Regions from separate parts of the Homo sapiens genome. Here regions 1 and 2 are each linked to region 3. Evidence: fine-mapped expression QTL. A gene starts in region 3. Each other region holds a variant in brackets. All regions are shown on one strand. Distances are between the middles of the regions. Region 1 overlaps DNAH6 (dynein axonemal heavy chain 6). Region 2 overlaps TRABD2A (TraB domain containing 2A). Region 3 holds the start of TRABD2A (TraB domain containing 2A).

Region 1 (8,000 bases), 310 kb before region 3:
CATCACTTATGTAGCATTACTGCCAAAAATTTAAATCTGAGTCTAATCATGAGGAAATATAAAACACACACATGCACATATACACACAACTGAGATACCTTTAAAAAATGTGAAGGTCATGCAAGGCAAAGAAAGATTGAGATATTGTCCCACATTAAAGAAAACCATCCAGGCGCAGTGGCTCACGCCTGTAATTCCAACACTTTGGGAGGCCTAGGTGGGCGGATCACAAGGTCAGGAGTTCAAGAGCAGCCTGGCCAAGACTGTGAAACCCCATCTCTACTAAAATTACAAAAAAAAAAAAAAAAATTAGCGTGGTGGCGGGCGCCTGTAATCCCAGCTACCCAGGAGACTGAGACGGAGAATTGCTTGAGCCCGAGAGGTGGAGGTTGCAGCAAGCCGAGATGGCACCACTGCACTCCAGCCTGGGTGACAGAGAGAGACTCTGTCTCAAAAAGAAAAAAAAGAAAAAAGAAAACCAAAAAGATGAAAAGATGCAATACATGATCCTAGGTAGAAAAGTAGACCAGAACAAAAAATGTTTTTTCCTTTTACTATGAAATTCATTACTGGAACAAATGGTAGAATTTGTATGAGGTCGGTAATTAGATAGCAGTATTAATATCCATGTTAATTTCCTGATTTGGACCATTATACTGTGGTTATGTAAGAAAATGTCCTTGTGTTTAGTAAGTAACCCCTGAAATATTTAGGGGTCAATGTGCCACATGTCTGTAACTTTCTCCCAAATGGTTCAGAGTATAATAATATGTGTATATAGACAGACTTATAAAGTAAATATGATAAATTGTTGAAGTTTAGGGAATTTTGGTGACAGAGATATGCAGTTCTTTGTACTATTCCAGTAACACTCTTGTGAATCATACATTGTTTCAAAATAAAAATGTTTTGAAATCATATTTTGAACATCGGTGGGGCTTTCCATTTACAAGCCTTATATTGTTTCTAGCACCTGCATGATGACATATGAGAGATACTATTTAGTCCGTTCAAAGGAAACATAGTTTGATAAAGTTTTTTTTCAATGTTTATTATAAAGAAGAAACAGCAGAAACATTCTGGAATATTCATAAAAGCCTATTAAAATAAATGAACAAATAACTAAATGTAAACATACAGGGTGTGTGCTATTCTTTGTAATTAAATTTTCTACTACCACAAGGCATAACTGAGTCACTTTCCCTAGCATTGGTGTGTTGGATTTGTGCAATTCCATTGGTCACCTCTAGTTTTCCTGGGACAAATTGCAGACTTTTACAAGTCTTAGTAGAAAACACAAGGAAAAGGTGTGGAGCACAGCCAAGTAGACATGGACCAAGACCAACAGCAAGTGAATCCTAACTGCCTTTCATAGACTTTGAACATATAATAATATATCTTGACACAGTTATTAAAGGGACTGAAGTGATTGGAAATCGTTGTCTTGGTTTAAAAAAACTTTGTGGGGAAATATGGGTTAGAACCAAGTTTAAGAGGGGTGAAGAAAAAGTTTTTATTATGGCAAAGTATGAAGGATATTTTGGAGTAAGAGACTGGCCAATGCCAAAGATTTGATAGTAAGATTAAGCAAGTGATTTTCTGGGCATGCTAAACAGGTTTGCCTTTGCTTAAAAACACAGTGACATAAAATATGCAGTTGGGAAAATAAACAAGTATTGCCTCTTTGCCATATGTTTACTAGCAATATATAAGTTCACCATGAAGCAGAAACAAATTGTGTTTCCTTTCAGTCACAGGAATAATTCTTCAAAAGTCAGGTTTAAAGATGAATTTTTTTTATTTCATAACAATTTCTTCTTGAATCCATCAATTACTCCTCGACATCAAGAATATATCTTTCTTCATTCATGTTTCCCAAATCAAAACATACTATTGGGCATAGAGTTTGTGTGCTTGCTTGTTTCTTTGTTTAGTTGTATTGAATTAAATTCTGCTTAACAAAAATATGGTCATATTTGTCTGCTTATTTATAACATTTAGGAAACCATTCAGGCCGCATTTGAATCAGCCCGCATCTATGCAGCTACCTTTGAAAAGTTCCAGATATTCTTCAAGGAAAATGAAAGTCTTGATTTACAAGCTCTTAAACTTCAGGAACCTGGTAACTTGTCCATTTGTACTTACTAATTATTTTTATAGGGATACTGAGATTTGTTGTTTTTTAGGATTCTGTTTGGTGGTGTCTGGGGACACAAATGGTAGCCCAAAAGAGTTGGCCTGACATAAGGCAAGAGTTAATTCATTTCTAGGTTATTTTCTATAGAATCACTTTTTTCCTTTCTCCTTATTCAGTATTACTTTTATTTCAGGATATTATGGAAAGCAATTCCTTCCTAATCGCTTATCATTTAGTTTAAAGTTGTATCAGTGCTAAGAGTATATAGCCTGCATATGAGAAGTTGTTGAAAGGAATGGATACCTCTACCAATTCCATTAAATAAAGTTTACATAAGCTTTTCTATCTCAGGAACTTATTCTTTTTTCTTCTGGGACTACATTAAGATCTGGTGGGTGTGAATCAACAACTCTTAGTCATGAAATAAGACCTAGGAGAAAACTGTTTTATTTCACTGTCTTTAACAATAGAAGATAATCTACAATATCCAAGTGCAATTTCAGGCAAGCAAGTTCTCAGAAAATTATAAAAAATAAGTATATTTGTTTGCTATTTTAAATCATGATGCATGTCTTTCATATTCTTTTTTATTTCATGAGCTTCCTTTATTTTCTTATATATAAATATAATTACAATTACATTGATACTTTGCTCTATGAACCAGCACTAATTTTTTCTTTATGTTTTTATGTTTTTCTTTCAATTCCTTATTGTTTACTATGCTGAAGTATTCTTAAGTTAAATAATTCAATATGCATCTCTAAAACATGTTTCTACAGAATGAAAATAGTATCATCCTCCACCGAAATAGCAATTCCTTAATATCTTAACTTATTCCATTTTCAAAATTCCTCAAGTAAAGCAGCTTCCAGATGATTTGGCCAGGGATCAAGTCCAAGATCAGTCATTGTATCTGATTGTTATGTCCCTTAAATTTTAAAAATCTGAAACTGACTCCTTTTTTTCAAGATACTAAGTCGTTAGACCAAAATGTGGCCCCAATTTAGAAAACAAAATTTAGACAAGCCTACTTCCACTGTTCTTTGACAACACTATCACATGGAGACTTAGTGTGTGCTGAACAGAAGCATACCGACAGGGACGTGAGGACATGATGCCTCCTGTGCTATGTCATGGCATCACAGTGGCAGCAGGGTATGGAGCCTGGAATTTTGGCACAAGAAGGAGGCCTGATCAAAATAGCCAGTTCTAATCCCTGAGCTCTTCTACTCATATCCTGAGCCCAAGGCTTCCTAGCCTCCTGCTACCACAGTCCTCACGTTGGATAACTGTGATCCCTCAGCAAGTTCCCATCAGCATGCAGTCCCCTGACTCCCAGGTTGCTCTTCAGCTAGTCCTATCTTGTCTTGCCAGTCCTGCCTTTGAAACCCAATCCTGGAACCAGGTCTCCCAGTCCCAACACTCTGATGGCTGCGACTTTGGAGTACCTTGGCCTGGACTCCTAACCTCTGTGCTCCTCCTCTGTTTGGAACCCCCAGTACGTCCTAAACCACTAAATCCAGTTGTTTGCCAGAGGGTTATAGAGGTGGGCTTTGCCCTTGGATATCAACCTTACCTGTTATTTGATATCCTCAAACGACTACAACATTGCTTAGCACATATTGTAGATCCTTAATAAATGTCTAACTGAACTTTTAGCCAGACTGCTCCCTGTCCTGCCTCAGAGAACGACCAGCAGATAGGTTCTGGCTTCCTGACAAGCAGCCACATCTCACCACCAAGTTCCTATAAATGTCAGCATTTACTAATAATTTCTACACTTTACTGAGCACTTACAGCATGATAGATACTGTTCTAAGTAATATTTAGACATTTCATCCAATCCTCACAATTCTGAGGAGAGTATTAGTATTACCATTTTATAAAAGGAAAACAGAGATCTATAGAGATAAGGCAACCTCAGGATTAAACAGCTAGTGAGCAGTTTAGATCTAATTTCTCTGACTTGAAAGCTTGTCTGCTTAACCGTTTTACGTACTGCCTCTCCGCGGTGGCTCACGCCTGTAATCCCAGAACTTTGGGAGGCCGAGGCGGGGGGATCACGAGGTCAGGAGATTGAGACCATCCTGGCTAACATGGTGAAACCCCGTCTCTACTAAAAGTACAAAAAATTAGCCGGGTGTGGTGGCGGGGGCCTGTGGTCCCAGCTACTCCAGGGGCTGAGGCAGGAGAATGGTGTGAACCCAGGAGGCGGAGCTTGCAGTGAGCCGAGATCGCGCCGCTGCACTCCAGCCTGGGCGACAGTGCAAGACTCCGTCTCAAAAAAAAAGGAGAAAGAAATCGTATTTCTCAACTATCGGCTTTAATCTTTTATTCCTTTTTGGCTATGTGGCCATAGCCAAGTCATATGACCTCAATTTCTCTATCTATGAAATAAGAGTTTTGGACCAAATAAATGGTTCCCAAAGTTGTGTTCATTGGCACTGTTCTGAGGGATAATTACATGATACCATGAAAAAAGATGGTGCTCAAATAAATTTGGAAAATACTAAACAG[C/T]GCAGCATTATACGGGTATCCTTACCATACGACTTATCAGATCATTTAACATCTTAATTTAGTCGGCTTTCAAAAATACACAAATCAAAACCTTCTGAAGTGAGTAAGGGAGGTAATTGCTGTTTCTGTCTTATATTATGAGGAAGCTGAAGCTCGGAAAGACTAAGTAACTTTCCCAAGGCCACACATGGGTTAAAGACCTGAGCTCAGGTCTTCCAATACTTTCTCTGGTGTGTTCTTTATACTATATCAAACTACCCCTTATAATTAGGAGAGGAGATGGCATGAATAAAGGCAGGAAACAGCACCCCTTTCTCTTTGGGGTGGTGGAGGAAGATTATGGAAGGAGGAAAAAGGGCAGACAGTAAGGAAATCAATTTGACCCAAATGTAGGAGGTAATTAGAAATAAAATTAGCTAAATTTTTAGAGGCCCAGAGGGTACAGAATTTTGAAAGACAAGCAGAGAAGTTTAGAACTGTATATGCATTAGAGAGAGAGCTATTTTTGACTGATAGTATGATGAGAGTATATTCAAGGATAATGAGGTTTCCATTGGTTCCAGATGGATTGGATGAGGGAGGAAATGGAGGCAAGAAGATTATCAAAATGCAACTGCAGCATATGCAAATTGACAAAGGCCTTGACCATGATGTAGGGTGCAGGAATGGCAGAGAGATGTGTTGGGAAGAGAAACAGAGATAATTTTAGCTATGTGTGATCTCTTATATTTCAAATTTTGTTGTTGTTTATATTCTCAAAATGCTTTACTTTGAGACACCATGTGGGAGAGAACATTTAGATTAATCCCAACTTGAAACCAACCTAACTCTGAAATCTAGTCAATTCCAGACTAGATTCTCTAATGCACTTACAAGTTATTTTCATCTGTCATCTCTTCATAGGAGCCAGAAGACATATTTACATTATAAAATATTAGTTTCTTTATCACAAGAATAAAATCCTATAAAGCAATCCAATTAGCATTTTAAAGTTACATGAGATACTCTAAGTACAGATAATAACATTATACATATATGTGTAAATTTATCAATGCAATGATTTTTAATATATTTTGTAATGATCTTTTAAAATCCAATATGGTATATTTTATGCTTTATGTGAATTTTTTTATGTAGATATTAACTTTTTTAGTGAACAACTGGAAAAATATCACAAACAGCACAAGGACGCAGTAGCGCTCAGACCCACCAGAAATGTAGGATTGCTGCTCATTGATACTAGGCTTCTAAGAGAAAAATTAATTCCATCACCTTTGCGATGCTTAGAGGTAACTATAAACTAGAAAAAAAAATAATTATTCCTCTACAATTATTTTATGATTTTTCTACTGCACAAAAACCTAGTATTTATTTTATAGTATTGCAAATATAAAAATTAACATAAGACTATTGGACATCCTTAATTTCTAAGAAAAGCTCTATAGTCTTTTTGTCACAAGCATAATCAGCTTTTTAGATGAGATAATGGAGGGGACTGCAGGCCTCACACTGGCCTCTTGCTCCTACTCCTTTTTCCATTGTCGGAGCATTTCAAGACCTGCAGAGAGGATACTACCATAACAGCTCAATATCCTAGAGGGAGTGATGGTTGATTCTAGACCACCGAGATCAAGTTTAGGAAATCATTTTCTGATCTGGAATTGTCCCTACAGGTCTGATTATGTTTTGGTAAGTTATAGAACTAGGGAAATTTCTGTAATAAGTTTCAGAACCAATACAATAATTTCCTTTGGAGCCAGAGTATACTTGTGTCTTCCCAATGCCCACAGAAAGACAATGATATAAAACAGGAATTGGAAAACTATAGCCCACAGAGCCAACCCAGCCTGCCTCTTGTTTTGTATACAGTTTTATCAGAACACAGCCATGACAATGGTTTACATATCATCTATGGCTGCTTTCTTCCTACAAGGACAAAGTTTAGTAGTTGTGACAGAGACTGTATTGACTGCAAATCTAAAATATTTACTATCTGGCCCTTATAGAAAACATTTTCTGGCCCCTGGTAGATGATAGAAGATAGAGCACTGTATAAAAAAGAGTGCAGACCTGAGTGCTAGTATTTTCTGTTATTAATTAATTGTATGGCATTGGGCTTCCTTCTAGAGTTTTGCTTCTTCATCTGGTAAAAAAAAGAAATATATATATAATTATGTATATAATTGGAGCAAATTTAATTCAATTTCAACAAGCACTTTTTAGCTACTGTATGCTCAAGAAATACTTGGATATGTATTTACTGTAAGCCCAAGAAAACTGAACTCAAGCTGGCTTAAGCAATCAGGAGAGTTATTGGCATATGTATCTAAAAAGTCCAGAGATTGGGTCGATATCAAGGAGGTATGATCTAGTGGCTCAGTGGTGTTACCAAGGAACCAATTATTTCTTTCTCTTTCCTGAGCCTCCTTATGTGCAGGCTTCATCCTAAGGCATTTGTAAAGTGATTGTCAAAAGCTCCACAAGCCAATTATTTGTTTGTATGGAGAGAGACAGAGAAAGCCTGGGGTTCTGAGTACACGTCTCTCTCAGCCATAAATAAAAGTGTGGGCCTTTATCTGATTGAATCAACTAAAGTCAGAGGTTCACACTTGATATGGTTTAGATTTGTGTGCCCACCCAAATCCCACCTTGAATTGTAATCCCCAGGTGTAAAGGGAGGAACCTGATAGAAAGTGATTGGATTATGGGGGTGGTTTCCCCTATGCTGTTCTCCTGACAGTAAGTGAATTCTCACAAGATCTGATGGTTTTATAAATCGTGGTTTTTCCTGCACTCTCACATACTTCTTCCTGCTGCCTTGTGAAGAAGGTGCCTTGCTTCCCCCTTCACCTTCTGCCATGATTGTAAGTTTCCTGAAGCCTCCCCAGCCATGCTGAACTGTGAGTCAATTAAACTTGTTTCCTTTATAAATTACCCAGTCTCGGGCAGTTCTTTATAGTAGCGTGAAAATCTTAATCTGATCAGTTTGGCCAAAAAAGCCATGTTCCTATTTGCCAAGTCATCAGTCAGACTGCATATTTGTTTCTGAAGGAGAGATCAAATTCCCCCAAACTGCATGGCTAGCGCCCAACATGAAAGGAGTGGGACTGATGCTGGACAGGGCAGCACAATGTCCACTACATAGGACAAAGAAGCAGAAAGCATACTTGCAAAATATTAGAGCATTTAGGGAAAATTTTTGGTAAGCTGTGGAAATGATCTTCAAAACCTGGCCTTCCTGTTGGCTCATTTAACTAGCAGTGATTTAAAGAGAAAAAAAGTCTCTTCGTATTCACTGCTGCTTCCAATGCCTGCTGATTTAACAAATCCAATTAGGATTTGTCTG
Region 2 (8,273 bases), 49 kb before region 3:
CTCTGTCTCCCCAATACTGGCCTACCCCAAGACTAAGGGAGCTGGCAGGGCCTTAAGTAAGCTAAATCACCACTTAACAGCCCTCATGTCCCCAGCCACACCAGCCTGCCCTGGATTCAAGTTCCACATGACCAGAATCATCCCTTAAGGACTACCAGATGGCTGCCGAGGAGGGGAAGAAGGAAACAGGTATCCCTCCACTGCCCTGGTCCTCCTTGCCAGCCCCTCTTTGTGGGCATTCTCCCCAACCCACTTCCCTGGGCCCTTAGCCTCCCGGGACCCTGTCCCTTCTTCCTGAACAGGAGCTCCTTTGGAGACCTCATCCTCCCTCATGGCTTCACCTGGGACCACTGTATGCACGTTCACCCCTAAAACCTCTCAGGTCCCCCACTGGCTGAATAAATGAATGCATGTGAGCAGTACCAGCAATGATATTAACACATAATCAATCCTATTTGAGATCCCATCATGTGCCAGATGCCAGGATAGGTACTCCTGGAAATCCAATTTTGAAAATTAGATCCTTGTCCGGAAGGCTCTAGAAGAAAGAGAGAGCTCTTGCACAAACCATAGGTTCCTTGGGGTCATGCACAGGATGAACCCAGGCTGGAGCAATGGAGGAAGATGTGGCAATTGTGCTGGATCTCACAGATTCTGATAGAGAGAACTGGGGGTAGTGTGGGTAGGGAAAGGATCTCTGGCAGAGGAAACTGCACGAACAAAGACAGAGGCTAGGAAGTAAAAGGTGGGAGAAGAAAGGGTAGAAAGAAAAGGTTTGGGAGGTGGAGGGGTCTGTGCTATTTCCTGGTCCTGGTTAATAGTGTGGCCTTTCACAGTTTCTTCGTTAGTAAATGAGAAGGAACACTTCCCTTGCGGGCTGGTTTTGAGAATTAACAGAGAGCCCATATAAACCTGGCTACCACCTGATGATCCACCAATAAATGCTCTTTTTCTCCCCGGGGAAGTGAGAACACTTGTTCTCAGCCTTCACTGGGCATCGGAATCTCCTAGAGAGCTTCTAAAAAGACGGATTCCTGACCTTCCTTTCCCCAAGGGCAGGTGTCAGGGTTAGAGGCAGAATTAGGGAGCCTGGGAACAACCAGCAACACACACACACACACACACACACACACACACACACCACACACACCACACATACCACACACACTACACACACACAAAACACACGTACCACACACACCACACATACCACAATGCACACCCCACACATACACAACTCACACATCAGACATGCACCACACATACCCCACACACATACACAATACACACACCACACATACCATACACACCACACGTACCACACTGTACACACACAACACACGTACCACACACACCACAACACAACGCAAACCCCACACGTACACAACACACACATCAGACATGCAGCACACATACCCCACACACATACACACAACACACACACCAAACATGCACCACACACATGCACAGTACCCACACATGCACACACCAGCCATGTTCCACACACATCCACACTACACCACACACACCCCACATACCACACACACCCCTCACACACAGGTACCAAACAACACACATACCAGACATGCACCACACACACACCATACACATGCACACTACACACACACACATACACCCCACACATATTCCACACTAGATACACACCACACAAACCCTACACACAAACATCACACACAACACACCCCTCACACACACCACACACCAGACACACACAAACACAAACATTACATACTCCACACACATTACACCACACACACGTACACACTCCCCAGGTAGGGCCCTCTCCAGCACCCTAAGGACAGTGCGTTGAACCCCAGGCCAGTCAGCCCAGCGGGAAGAGCTGAGAAGGGACCAGAGGCCAGTGAGGGAGGAAAGACCCACAGTCCTGCAGGGCGCAGAGAACCCCTAAGGGCTGGCTCCTCCAGACCTGCAGGAGAACAGGAAGGAGAGAGGCAGGAGACGTGAGCCTGCAACAGAGCTGACTCAGGCAGGGGCGGGATCCTCCCGGTCAAGGGGAGGAGAGGAGGGCTCCTCAGAAGGGGGAAGTAGCGTCAGTAAAGGAGAGGCGGGGACGGGATGGAGGCTCTTCTGAAGCAAGCAGCAGATCCATGCTGGAAGGGTAGGGTCTGAGTGCCAAGACCTCCGCGTGAAGACAATGACCTTGAAAAAGAACAACATGAAACCACGGAGGGTTTGAATATAGGACACTGGAAAGAATAGTCCCACAGAAGGGCGAAGAGTGAACCAGAGGGAGAAGGGCCTGGAAGGGGGCGGTGGCCATGGAAATGGAGAAGGACAAATCCCAGCGAGTCTTTAGTGGAGGAAGCCAAAAGCCTGGTGGAGAAGGAAAATGAGCAGTCTCACATCAGCGCTTCTGTAAACTAGAAAGTGCTCTGTGAAGGGCGGTCAGTATTGACATACTGAATACAGGGCATGAAGACAGGTGGGGATGAGAGAAGTCCAGGATGTATCCAGGATTTCCCGCCTGAAGGGAGACTGGCAGGAGCCTCTGGGGTGAGGGGGAACAGGGAGACAAGGTGCAGTGAAGGGGGGCCTTCTGAGGAGAAAGAGGGCAGCTGGAGATGGGCGGCCTTCGGGCAGACACAACTGCTGGATCCTCTGCCAGGGGATGGGCATTTGCATCCTGGAACTCTCTCGCTACAGCTGAGACCTCTGCCAGGAGAGGGGGCTGCTGACCACAGATCGGGAGGCAGTGGGGGCCAGAGGAATGGAGGGGATATTAGGGGCTGATGTGTGCCCCCCACATTCACATGTTGAAGCCCCATCCCCAGTACCTCAGAATGTGACCATTTGGAGTTAGGGCCTTTAAAGAGGTGATTCAGTTCACATGAGGGCCCTAGTCCAATAGGACTAGTGTCCTTAGTAGAAGAGAGGCCAGGGATGCTCGCTTACAGAAAAAAAAAATGCCATGTGCCGGCAGGAAGAGAAGGCGGCCATCTACAAGCCAAACAAAGAGGTCCCAAGAGAAACCAGTCCCGTTGACACCTTGATCTGGGACTTTCAGCCTCCAGAACTGTGAGAAATGCATTTCTGTTGATTAAATCACTCAGTCTGTGGTTGTTGTTATGACAGCCCAAACAGACTACTACAGGGGAAGGGGAAGGACACCTGGGGCCCACCAGGATGGACGACCAGTTGGGAGGCCAGTGGGTGGACAGCATTGCTGAGGGCTGGGGGCTGGGCCTCCTGAGTTCTTTACAGAAAGGTCTGAAAGGGCAGAGGGCAGTTTGGCCAAAAAAAAAAAAGAGAGAGAAATAAACCTAGGGAGGAGGAAACAGCTCAGAGAAAAGGTGCTTTCTCCTGCCCCTGAGAAGGGTGAGACATGCACTCCCTGCACCCCTAACCCCTCTGGCCTGTTTACCACTGTCATGGCCCGATTTTGCCTCCCGAAAACTTCCAAAACACCTAGGGCAAAGGACACTGGGCATTAAGCCTAATTACTCCTCCTTTCCCCTACCCCTCAACCCCTGGGCAACCTTCCCTTCACCTTCCCCCGCTTGCCAAACACCACTGAGGAAAACGCCAGTGTGGCCCCTGCAGCCCAAAGTGTCCATCCTGCCAACCACGTCTGACACAGCCCCAGCCACACAGAGCCAGCTGAGCTGGTGCCAAATGTCCATGTAAGGTCAAGTGTGGGGGAAATGACGAGGCAGGGGTTCTCTGGAGCTCCTCAAGATAGCAGCCCACCCTGGTGCCCAGGCAGCCCCATGAGGGTCTCAGCTCCCCAGCCAAGATAGAAGCACAGGACGGTTACTTGTGGATGGGTCGTCCAGCAGGGGC[G/A]TGTTCTACCTCATAGCCTTCACGCCGCAAAACATCCAGCACTGTGTTGTTGCCCATGAAATGACCTGCAGTGAGAAAAACAACCTGAAATGCTGCAGCTCTCAGGACCACCAAACATACTCCCCAAACACACACCCTAGAACCAAGAAATTACCCTGCCAAGCCCCCTGCCTATCTGTCCAGCACAGTACAGTTCTAGAGAGCTTCTGGAATCAGGCCTGCCAACAGTCCTGCAAGGCAGGCAGGGCAGCATCAGTAGCATTTCAGAGACAATGACACTGAAGATCAGAACAATGCAGCAAGTTACCTGAAGTCACAAAGCTAAGGGGATAGCCTGGACATCAAACTGCAACCTGGTAAGACCTCCCAGAAGAGGTGATATGTGAGCAGGATCCTGAAAGGTGAGGACACTGGTCTGGAGAAAATACAAGAATTCAAGCTGAGCACAGTGGCTCACACCTGTAATCCCAGCACTTTGGGAGGCCGAGGCGGGTGGATCACCTGAAGTCAGGAGTTCAAGACCCACCTGGCCAACATGGTTAAACCCCATCTCTACTAAAAATACAAAAATTAGCCGGGCATGGTGGCAGGCACCTGTAATCCCAGCTACTTGAGAGGCTGAGGCAGGAGAATCACTTGAACCCGGGAGGCAGAGGTTGCAGTGAGCCGAGATCATGCCACTGCATTCCAGCCTGGGTGACAGAGCAAGACTCTGTCTCAATTAAAAAAAAAAGGAGGGGGGGGAATTCCCAACTACAGGATGGAATGCAATTGTGCTCTCTGAAAAAACAGGGAGGCTGGTGGGACGGAAGGAATGGCTACTTCCCAATCACCACTTTCTAGAAAAAGTAAAGGCAACCTAATCTAAGATCTGTCATTCTTGGAGGTTTCTGCATAGGACAAACCCACTGTAGTCTCAGGAGTCACAACCAGGGAACCCTGGGAGCCTGCGGCAGTACAGCAAATAGGCCCCGAGAAGGAAGCAGAAGGCCCATGGTTCCTGCTTTCATTTTCACCCTCATGCATCAAAGGGGGTGTTCATGGGTCAGCAGGGGCTCAGAAAGGGAAGTTTGGCAAAACCATTCCCTCCCATCCTCCCCTCTCCTCCCCACAGCCTAGACCAGCCTAGACAGCTGCCAGTGCAGGGGCGATAGCTGTAACCTAGAAATGTGGGGTAGGAGAGGAGGCCACTGGAGAAGTAACCCTGGCAAACAGGAGCCAAAAATCAGCATGAGCTGATTTAAGATCGACACCTAAATAAGAAAAAAAGTCATGTCTTTCACCACTGATCCTAGGTTATTCATTTGCAAATAAGGAACTGGCAATTTAGAACAAGTGATTATAGTTTCCACTTAGCACTTCTGACTTCAATTTTTCTTCTACTGCAAAGGTGATTTCCATTTCTAATCTTCGCATTTTATATCCAGATCCCCATGACAAAAGTCGCTGCTTGATTTTAAAACTCCAGTACTTTCCATTTTCAGTTATCCTCATTTTGCAATTAAAAGTTTGCTAACCACACAGCTTTTAAGTTTTAAAAGCACACGGTAATGTGTTTCGGAGCAATTTCTGTAGTTTCCTCTGTTCAACTTAGCCTTCAGAAGGCACAGAGAGAAAGCAGCTACAGGAATATAACTTTGCCTTAGAAGGAGCCAGTGCTAGATGGGGGCTCACAGCCCCTGGGCACTTCGGGCATCAGGAGTGCCCAGGGGCTGTCAGCCCCAATCTAGCCCTGCATCAGTATGACAAATCAAGCCCTGAGTACTGGGCAAGCTCAGGTGTTGGTGTTGCCTGTTCCACCTGCCTGGCAGAACCCCCACCACGAGGGCCCACCCACCGAACTGCTCAGACCAAGCTGTGCCCCAGCCTCCCACCAGCCCAGAACCCAGTCGACCTTTCCCCTCTCCCCAGCGCCCCATTACCCCTGCCACGGGACATACGGGAAGTTTTTGGGAGCTCACCTAAGTCTGGCAGGGGTGGAAAGCAGAAGCCCACACTCCAGCACCTGGGCACCTTCCATCCACACAGACCCGGGGTGGTGCATTGGGACACCACCACTGGCTCTGTTTCCTAACTTTCTCATCTGGGGTCTGCACCACTGTTACGGTGCCTCAAGAGTGAGGCCCAGGCTAACAGCTTTGTTCCAAGAAGCCATTTGTTGAGACAGTACAAATGTGCACACGGTGCCCAATCCAGACATGAAACACAGGACTTACAGAAGAAGAAAACTACCACATACTCACGGGCATTGCTGAGGGCACAAACTGCAGTTTGTTTGTGGCAGAACTTTTCAATGAGCATAATGTGGGAGCCAAACCCCTTATATTTCTATAACAGTTTTATTAATATTTGAATATAATTCACATAACATAAAATTCATCCTTTTAACGTATGCCAGTCGGTGATTTTTTCTGTATATTCAGAAAATCATGCAATCATGACCACTATCTAATTTTAAAACATTTTCATCGTTTTGACCCCAGCCCCTGGCAACCACTAATCTATGAATACTTTCTGTCTCTATAGATTTGCCTGTTCTGGACATTTCATATAAATATAATCATATGATTTTGTGACTGGCTGTTTTCACTTAGCATAATGTTTTCAAAGTTCATCCATGTAGTACCATATATCAGTACCTCTTTCCTTTTTATGGCCAAATAGTATTCCATTTGTGTGTATATATCACCTTTTATTTATCCATGTCAGTTGATGGATAGTTGGATTGGTTCCACTTTTTGGCTATTATAAATAATGCTGCCATGAACATCTGTGTACAAATTTTCGTGTGGACATATGTTTTCAATTCTCCTAGGCATATATCTGGAAGTTGAAATGCTGAATCAAATGGTAGCCCCATGTTTAATTTTTAAAAACTGCTAAACAGTTTTCCAAAATGGCTACACCATTTTAAATTCCCAGTAGCAATGTATGAGGGTGCCAATTTCTCCATGTCTTCACCAAAACTTTTTACTCTCCATCTTTTTTATTATAGCCTAGTGAGTATGAAATGGTATCTTCACTTTAGCACCACAACAATAGGACTCCAGTAAAATAACAGTGGATTATATGTGAAAGTGCAGCAAGACTCAGACTCTATTTAAGAAGGTTCTTAAGAAAGCACAAGACAAAAAATACTAGAGGAAAAACTAGAGGTCACTAGAGGAAACTGAAGCCTCTGGGACCTAGAGTTACAGCAAACATGCCTTAGTCTGTGTTGCTGTTACAAAATACCACAGACTGGGTCATTTATAAGCAATAGAAATTTATTTCTCACAGTTCTAGAGGCTGGGAAGTCCAAAATCTAGGCATAGGCATTCAGTGCCCAGTGAGAGCCTTTTTTTTTTTTAATACAGAGAGTCTTACTCTGTCACACAGGCTGGAGTGCAGTGGCATGTTCACAGCTCACTTCAGCCTCGACCTCCAGGGCTCAAGTGATCCTCCCACCTCAGCTTCCCAAGTAGCTGGGACTACAGGCACACATCACTATGCCTAGCTAAATTTTTATTTAATTTTTGTAGAGATGAGGTCTCACTGTGTTGACCAGGCTGGTCTCAAACTCCTGAGCTCAAGTGATCCTCCTGCCATGGCCTCCCAAGGTGCTGGGATTACAGGCATGCACCACCATGTCCAGCTGAGGGCCTTCTTCCTGAGTCTTTACATGGCAGGAGGGGCTAATGCTATATCTTCACATGGTGGAAGGCACAAGGGCAAAAAAATAGCCTACACTACTTTCCTCCAGTCCTTTTAAAAAGCATGAATCCACTCATGAATGTGGAGCCTTCATGTCTTAATCACTTCCCAAAGGCCCCACCTCTTAATACCATGACAATAATAATTAAGTTTCAACACACAAGTTTTAAGGAACATTCAGACCACAGCAAAACATTAAACAGCCCAACTCTGAGAAAGATTAACATAAACCCTCACACTAAAAACATATTTCCCTCACTTCCCATTGCCAAATACATCATATCCAGCTTTCAATTAAAAATTACAAGTCACACTGGGAGGCAAGAAAAATCACAATCTGAAGAAACAATGAAAGCATCAGACCCAGACTCAGACATGATAGAGATTCTGGAATTATCAGATAGGGAATATAGTTGAACTGAAGAGCATCATCAATCAAATTGATCTAATTGACATTTAAAGAATACTTCATCCAACAACAGCAGAATACAAATTCTATTCAGCTCACATGCAACAGATTTCTCCTTCGTTTTTGATTTTTGCTGGATGTGGAAATGTTTGTTGACAGTCTTTTATTTCAGCATTTTGAGTATGTCTCCCATAGCCTTCTGGCTTGCATGGCTTCTGATGAGAAATCTGCTGTTAATCCTATTGGGGATCCCTTGTCTGCTTTGCTCTCACTGCTTTCAAGATTCTGTGTCTTTGGCTTTTGACAGTTTGGCTATGACACGCCTTGGTGTGAAACTTTTTGATTTTAT
Region 3 (8,273 bases):
GCTCATGCCTGTAATCCCAAGACTTTGGGAAGCTGAGGCAGGAGGACCATTTGAGGCCTGGAGTTGAAGGTTACAATGAGCTATGATCACGACACTGCCCTCCATCCTGGGTGACAGAGCAGGACTGTGTCTCAAAAAAGAAAAAAGAGAGAGAGAAAACATGGCCATGGGTGACTGAGACACAGAAGCTACAAGCTTCTGAATCAAACTGAGATTTTAACAGACACCTGTGTAGTCCATCCAGTGAAAAAGAACAAGGCACAATGACAACTGCATATTGCAAGCTAACTCCGTAACACCCAGCACACCCTCAGCTCCTCCCATCCTAGCATCCCTGGACCTGCAATAACTGCACTTTTCCAAGATTACTCTTCAGCAGACCAGCCACAATGAAGCTGGCTTTACATTATCCTTTTCATTCAACAAATATTTTTTGAGCATCTGCTATGGCAAGGCACTCTTCTGGATACTGGGGATGCAGAAGCAAACAAAACAGACAAAAATCCCTACCCTTATGAAGATGACATAGGGGAAGGGGCAGCAATAAACAAAAATTTTTATCAGATGGTGATTAAGTGCTATAAATAAAAATAAAGCAGGGAAGGCAGATGGTAGTGGTGGCAGCAGTTGATGTCACCTTTACGAGAGTAATCAGGAAGAAACTCATTGAGAGACGCTTGAGCCAAAGCCAGATGGAGGTAAGGGAGCAAGCCTGTGGATAAATGAGGGGAGAATTTCCCAGGGGGAAGAAAGAGCAAGTATAAAAGGCATCAGGCTGGACACGGTGGCTCACGCCTATAATCCCAGCACTTTGGGAGGCTGAGGCGGGTGGATCATGAGGTCAGGAGTTCGAGACCAGCCTGCTCAAGATAGTGGAACCCCATCTCTACTAAAAATACAAAAATTAGCCGGGCTTGGTGGTGGGCGCCTGTAATCCCAGCTGCTCAGGAGGCTGAGGCAGGAGAATCACTTGAACCCTGGAGGCAGAGGTTGCAGTGAGCCAATGTAGCATCACTGCACTCTAGCCTGGGTGACAGATAGAGCAAGACTCTGTCTCAAAAAAAAAAAAAAGGCAGCAGGCAGGAATAGGAAAGAACACTAAGAGTTCTGTTTGACAAGAAAGAGACTCAACCTGCGTGGTGCTCAGGGTAAACCCTGCAGTGTCTAGGGGCCAATTTGGGCTCAGAAGACCTCTCTAATGATTAACCAACCATGAAAACCAAACCAGCTCTCAAGGCTACAGTCCTGCAGAATCCTATAGGGGCTGCTGCACTGGATTGGAGGCTGGATCCCAGGACTTCCACTCTAGAATCTCAAGACCCCAACCCACTGAGGAACCCAACCACAATGCCCTTACAGCATGTGGGTCAGACATACAGCATGTGTGCCGCTGATTGGCCTTCCCAATTCCGCAGGGGGTAAGACAGAGTTTGCCCACAGAATAGAACAGCAATTCTCAAAGTATGGTCCAGGGACCTGTGGGTGTCCCCAAGAGCCTTTCAGGGAGTCTATAAGGTCAAAACTGTTTTTATAAAACTAAGATATTTTCCTTTCACCCTCATTTTCTCACAAGGTACTGTAGAATTTTCTGGAGGCTACATGTGTGTGATGAGGTCACTGCTCTGATGGCTAATGGAATGTGTGCTATGTTGTGTTTTACTACTATCTCCATTAATTCACATAAAGTAAAAGTCTTTGAGGTTTTCAATACTTTTTTTTTTTTTTTTTTGGATATAGGGTCTCGCTCTTTCACCCAAGCTGGAGTGCAGTGGCACAATCACACCTCACTGGCCTCCACTCCCAGGCTCAAGGTTTCCTTCCACCTCAGTCTCTGGAGTAGCTGGGACTGCAGGCACATGTCCCCACGCTGGTAATTTTTTTTATTTTTTTGTAGAGACAAGGGTCTCGCCATGTTGGCCAGGCTGGTCTGCAACTCCTGGGCTCAAGTGATCCACCGCCTTGGCCTCCCAAAGTGCTGGGATTACAGGAGTGAGCTACCATGCCGGGCTTCTTTGATAATTTTTTGTAACGTAAAGGAGTCCTGAGACCAAAAGGTAGGACGATGGAATAAAGGACTCATAAAGACAGATTCTAAAGGAGAGAGATCTTATCCAGACTCACTCGTCATAATTACCAGTCGGTAATAGGTTTTGCAGAAGTGAAAGGCAATGTGCTTTCTTGTGAGGAGATGGACTCCTGCCTTGTCTAACAAGCATGAAGCGGCCACACCGCAACAGAGTTTGAAACCATGCCTGGTGCAGACTCCCCTCTCCAGCTGCCGCGCCTCCTGCCTTGGTAGAGGGCCGTCCGCAGCCCCGCGACGCCTTACAGAGGCGAACACCGTGCGTCTTCCCAGCCCGGAGCTCCAGGATCGGCTCTATTTGGCCGTCCTCTGCTTTGCTGCAGTTGGGATGAGGAATAAAATTGCGAATGGCCAGGGGTGGAGGCAGACCGGGGAGCTGCGCAGGTGTCATCAAAGGTGGGCCTCTAAATTCCAGCCCCCACTCCCTCAACCCACCCCCAACCCCCCCCACCCCCGCGTCGCGGGCGCACCAGAAGGATAAGCCTGGCATGGCCCTCTCCAGAGCCAGGGACGCACAGATATCAAACCCACCGGAACAAATGCGCGAAATTCAACCTATGCCGCACTCAGAAGAGAGGGACTCGAGAACCACAGAAAATTCTGAGTGTAGGAAAACTGATCAGAGAAGGAAATATTCATCTCGAAAGAGGTCCAGCCTCGGAGACGCAAGACCTGTCCGCTATAGAGCTGTGTTGACTCGGGCAGGTCACTGAGCCTCCCTTGCCTGGGTTTCCCTCACCCACAAAACGTTGATGCGAACATCTAAAGCGCCCGGCTGGACACGCAAGGCTCGGACAGTGGTCACTCCGCGAACGCACTCTGTGACCTGGAGCACACAGGTCCCCCGCTGAGTGTCAGTTTCCCAGATCGGTAAAAACAAGGGAAATGGCTTCAACTCCCTAAAGTCCCTTCTAACTCAGGCACTGAACATATGAAGGTTAAGCCAAGCAGCTTCAGGGCGCTGTTAATATTTTGATAAGAGCAGGTGAAATTAAACTCTTAAGGAAGAGAGGGAAGAAGAAACTTCAAATAAATGTGCCCAAGTTCCTGGTCCGGTACTCCCTGGCGGATCCGTCCCCCGAAAGCTCGCGAAAATGGCTGGCGAGACCCCAGAGGCTCTCTCGGACGCCCTTGGGCTGGCGGAGGGCAAAGGCCAGGGCACTGAGTCGCTTGGAGCCTGCGGGCTGCGCCCCCGCGGGAAAGGGGAACCCGAGGGCACGGAGAGGAGAGCGAGCAAGGAGCGCCGCGGTGCTAGGTGAAAGCCCAGCCGCGGAAGTCGGCTCGGGGTCCGAAAGCGCTGCTTCGCGGGGTTCGGAGGGAAACCATCCCAAGGAGGTGCAGAGAGGCCGGCTCTCCAGCACCCGACGCGCGCCTTACTTGGGGCTTGAGCTCGCAGTTGGCGGTGCCGGGCGCCCCGCGCCGCGAAGCTGCGCCCGTGGGCAGGAGGCAGAGGGTCTGCAGCAGGAACCAGCTCCAGGGACTCATCCTCCTCAAGGCGGCTCCGAGGCCCGGAACGCGGAGGGAAGGAGTAGGGCAGAGGTGGCCGCCCGCCCTGGCTAGCCGGGGCCGCGGGGCGCCTCCGGGCGGGGCTGGGGTGAGCCCGGCAGCAGCGGCCACGTGGGGCCGGGCCTCGACCTCCCTCCCCCCACCCCACCCCCGCAGGTCAGCCCCGCGCCTAGGCGGCAGCGGAGTCCCGAACCGCGTTTCTCCCGCCCAAACCCTGCCGGGGCCGCCGCCCACCTCGTGTGACCGCAAGAGGGGTAAAGTGAAGTTCCAGCGCTGTCCTAAATTCAACCTAAAATCGCATTGGTTCCTGCGTTTACGTCTGTGCTTATGCTGCCGATTGTGAGGGGAGGGTGCCTCTTGATTGAAAGAGGCAGACAAAATAAACAAATGAAAGGCTATCTATAAAGGAAAGTTCATTTAAACAAAGGAAATCTCACGGAAGTTTTGAATGTAAAAGAGAGAGGGGAATGGTCAGTGTGTGCATCCACTGAAAATCCAGGACCACAAAAGCTGGCACTCCATTAAGAGCCCTCTTAATGGATTTTTAGGAATAATATTAAGGATGTTAACACCGAACTCAGAGGATTGCCGCAAGGATTAAAAGAGGAAATTTATGAGAAACACCTTGATTGGCACACATAGCAAGCCTGCAAACTGCAGTCGCTCCCTTTCGGCTCCAAAACCCCACTGAGGATTTTTCACAGCATTGGTCCATCAGGAAGAAAAAAAAATTATGAAAGCAAGTAGCTGTGCCCCGCCTGCCGCACCTCCTACCCATGCCTGAGCGCACTTTACCACCACCTTTTAAAGTCCAGACGTCTGCGCCATTAACTTCGGAGTGGTGTTCGCAGGAGCATTTGTCGCAGTGGTCTTTAATTGCTTTAAGTCGCTGTCCATTTTGAGAATCTGATAACTGGACGATCTCCCAGGGAAAAAGAAAAGGGGGGGGGCAGATTTGCATACAATGCGGGGAGAGGTTTTCTGAAGCCCATTTCCAACTTTCCCGTAAAGAACCCCTGGCTTTGAAGAGCCAAGTCTTTCGAGATTTAACTCCACCAACATTTAGAGTTCAGATGTTTTTGTAAAATCGCTTTTTTCTAAGTTTGAGTGGGGATTTGCTTTCTGGAATTGACTGTCTCCTGTCTTCAGATGACTGCCCCGTGTCAGCCCGGCGGCAATCGTTAGTCTCCGGGCCAACCCAGGACGATGCTTTTTGGCGTTTTCAGGCACCAGCGCTGCCACCTGCTGGCAAAAACTTTCTCTTTCGGTTGTGAGGGGGAAAAGCAAAAAGCATCAAGAACGTAAGTTGCCCTGAGCTAAGATCGAACCACTGCACTCCAGCCTGGGCCACAAAGTGAGACCCTGTCTCTTATTTAAAATAAAACAAAACAAAACAAAACAAAAAACTCAAAAGGATGTAATTACCTATTATTTCATGTTATCTCTCCCACTCCAAATGAATCAATCCGTGTGGCCACAGAGAAGCCCGCCCAGCTTCTCTCTGAGCTGGGCTTCTCTCTGGCCACACAAAACATGGCTGAATTTGTTTATTTTCTCCTGTTGTTTGTCTCTCTTTTATTTCGTTGGTTTCTGCTCTTATCTTTGTTATTTCCTTCTGTTTGTTTACTTTTGGGTTTACTTTGCTTTTTTTCTGGATTCTTAAGGTGGTACCTTAAGTCATTGACTTTAAGTCTTCTTGCTTTTGTAATATAAGCATTTAAAGTTATAAATTTCCCTATAAGCACTGCTTTAGCTACATCACCCAAATTTTGAAAAACTGTATTTCATTATCTTTCATTATCTACTTTCCCTGGTGATTTTCTTCTTTGCCCGTGGATTATTTAGAAGTAGGTTGATTGATTTCCAAACTATGGAATTGTCCTAAATATTAGGTTGGTGCAAAAGTAATTGTGGTTTTTGCAATATCAACAGATTTATAATCCAATTCTGTTGTAAACAGAAAACATACTCTGTATGATTTTGATTATTTTGAATTTATTGGGACTTGTTTTATGGCTCAGCATATGGTCAGATACTGAGTATGAAATATCATATCCATATCCAAAGTACCTAGATAATTTTGTTTGATTCTGACAGTTTTTAAATGAAGTGTTTTTTTTGTTGCTGTTGTTGCTTTGTTTCGTTTTGTTTTTTCTCTTAGCCAGACCCATCATCAAGTAGGATTTATTCTGTAAGACACTCAGTGTCCGAATATTCTATAGAATCACATCTACTCTACTTACATGTTTCCACAGACATTCCTAAGTTCACTATCATCCCACAGTGCTGACCCAGACCTGGTGACAGGCTGACATGGCCTGGTCCTCACTTGCCTTATACAGACATCTGGGTTGCAGGCCTTTCTGCCTTTCCCTTCCTGGTTAGGAAGGAGATGTTAAATGTACCCATGTCCTCCTCTCTGCTTATCTGCCGAGTTTCTGTATCAAGTTTAGCTCCTTAACTTCAGCTTTGTTACTGGATCATACCTCTGGCTGCCCATTGCCAGAGCCCTGAATTGCTTCTGAACCTTCCCTGGTCCTTTCTCTTTCCCCTTTCATGTATGGTTGATATCCTTGGCAACCCTCCCATATTAGTCCATTTTGTGCTGCTATAGAAGAATACCACAGACTGGGTCATTTATAAAGAACAGAAATGTATTTCCTTACAGTTCTGGAGGCTGGAAAATCTGAGATCAAGGTGCCTAGCATCTGGCAAGGGCCTCCTTACTGCATCATCCCACTGTGGAAGGTGAGAGCACAAGAGAGTGAGAAAGAGAGAAAAATCGAGATTGAGAGCTAAAGTCATCCTCAAGCCATTCATGAGGTCATGAGGGTAAAGCCCTCCCATGATGTCCCAGCTCCCAACACTGTTGCATTAGGGATTAAGTTTCCAACATATGCTTTTGGAGGACACCTTCAAAGTATAGCATCCGCTTAGGTCCATCTACTCTTAAGTGCTTCTTTTGTGCCCCTAGTAATGACTTTCTGAATTTACACAAACCTGTGAGGCTTGTCCCCTTCATAGCAGTACCTGAGAAAATTATACTGCTGATACCTTTTTGCTCTTTCCCCAAAATCAGATTTACCCTCAAAAATAAAGTTTTCAGAGTATGCAGAGGATTTGCTATGGCTTCAGCAACACTCTGTGCCTTCACCCTGCCTTTTTCTACCTGGCTTGGCTGACCTGCAGTCATCCACAGATTTCCAGAGGTGATCGGGACATCAGAGGTGTGGTGGCAGTTCCCCTTGATTCTGCCTCCTGATATTCACACTTATGTTTCATACCCTGTCCTTTATTGTAACCAGAACCTGAGACTTGCTTCTAACAATGAAATACGGCAAAGGTCATGGGCAGTGCTGTGATTACTTGTACATGACTACATAAACATGTACTGCTAGTCTTGCTAAAGTCTCTCTCTCCATTGCTATCTTTCCCAGCCTCCAGAACTGTAAGGAAATGCATTCTGTTACTTATAAATGACCCAGTCTGTGCTATTCTTCTATAGCAGCACAAAATGGACTAATATGGGAGAGTTGCCAAGAATATCAACCATACATGAAAGGGGAAAGAGAAAGGACTAGGGGAAGGTTCAGAAGCAGTGAAAATCTCTCTCTCCATTGCTAAGCAAGTTGCCATGAGACCTACAGAATTCATGAAGACATGAATTCTGCCAACAACCTAAGAGAGCTCAGGAGCAGATCCCTCTCCAGTTGAGCCTCCAATGAAAATCCAGTCCTAGCCAACAACACCCTGACTGTAGCCTTGTGAGACCCTAAGCAGAGGACTCAATTAAGCTCTGTCTACACTCCTGATCCAAAGCAACTGGGAAAATAAATGTGTGCTGTTTTAAGCCACCAGGTTTGTGGTAATTTGTTGCAGCAGCAATAGATAACTAATACACCAGGGGAAGTGGGATGCTAAGCACATTCCCAGGAGTTCCAGCATGGTGCTCGGCCAGCAGGCTGTGTCCGTCCTCAAGGTGAGCAGTTGAAGACCTAAGTTGATGGAGGTGTGGAAACACCTACTCCCTCCACTGCCAGGTGTGCAGGCTCCGTGCATTCTTGGAAAGGGGCTGAATGTTGCCACACTCCCTCGCCCACCCAGTGTTGGCACAAGAATTTCTAAGTAGGAAAGAGTGGCAAGTATGCCAAAGCTGCATTTGCTTTGCAGCACACTGCTTGTACCAGATTGTGAAAAAGAGAAAACATCCCTGGACAGCTGGGAACTGGTCTGGTTTTATCAGTCAGGCCTTGGTGTTGCTACAAGCTGGCCTGGCACTCACAGCTAAGCCATGGTGTTCTCCTGTTGAACATAAACAACTTCACAGAGCATCAACATCAGACAAGGCCACTCTGTGATGAATGAAGATGAAAGCAAAACCCCTCCATAATCACATCTCAACACAGACAAAACATGAACATTGGCCAAGTCACAAGAAAGGGTGTCCAGTCATCCGCCTCTTCTGACTAAGGAGTGATGGCTGCTCCTTTACCAAGGCCAGTTTTCACCTCCATTCATTTCTCCCACCTCATAGATGAGATACGTTAAGATTCTATTTGGGGATAAATTAAGATCCCCCAAAATTCATACATTAATCCCCTAACCCCTAGTGCTTCAGAATGTGACTGTATTTGAAGATAAAGTCTTTAAATCGATGATTAAGTTAAAATTAGGCTGTAAGGAT

The links. PIP is the estimated chance that this variant, and not a neighbour inherited with it, causes the effect.
Region 1: its variant is fine-mapped to the expression of TRABD2A in whole blood (TOPMed, PIP above 0.99).
Region 2: its variant is fine-mapped to the expression of TRABD2A in whole blood (TOPMed, PIP above 0.99).

The regions. Positions count from the first base shown.
Region 1 is chr2:84,571,466-84,579,465 of GRCh38, forward strand. It overlaps DNAH6 (dynein axonemal heavy chain 6), which reads left to right. Exons shown (of 77, transcript NM_001370.2): 12 at 2,002-2,122; 13 at 5,792-5,943. Among named protein-coding and RNA genes, the nearest start is that of DNAH6, 59 kb to the left of the region's middle. The variant C/T (reference allele first, on the strand shown) is at 4,655.
Region 2 is chr2:84,828,259-84,836,531 of GRCh38, forward strand. TRABD2A (TraB domain containing 2A) reads right to left here. Exons shown (of 7, transcript NM_001277053.2): 5 at 3,797-3,887. Among named protein-coding and RNA genes, the nearest start is that of TRABD2A, 49 kb to the right of the region's middle. The variant G/A (reference allele first, on the strand shown) is at 3,823.
Region 3 is chr2:84,877,472-84,885,744 of GRCh38, forward strand. TRABD2A (TraB domain containing 2A) reads right to left here and starts at 3,613. Exons shown (of 7, transcript NM_001277053.2): 1 at 3,461-3,613. The coding sequence starts at 3,568. RefSeq lists enhancers at 2,855-3,357, 3,358-3,858 and a silencer at 3,588-3,717.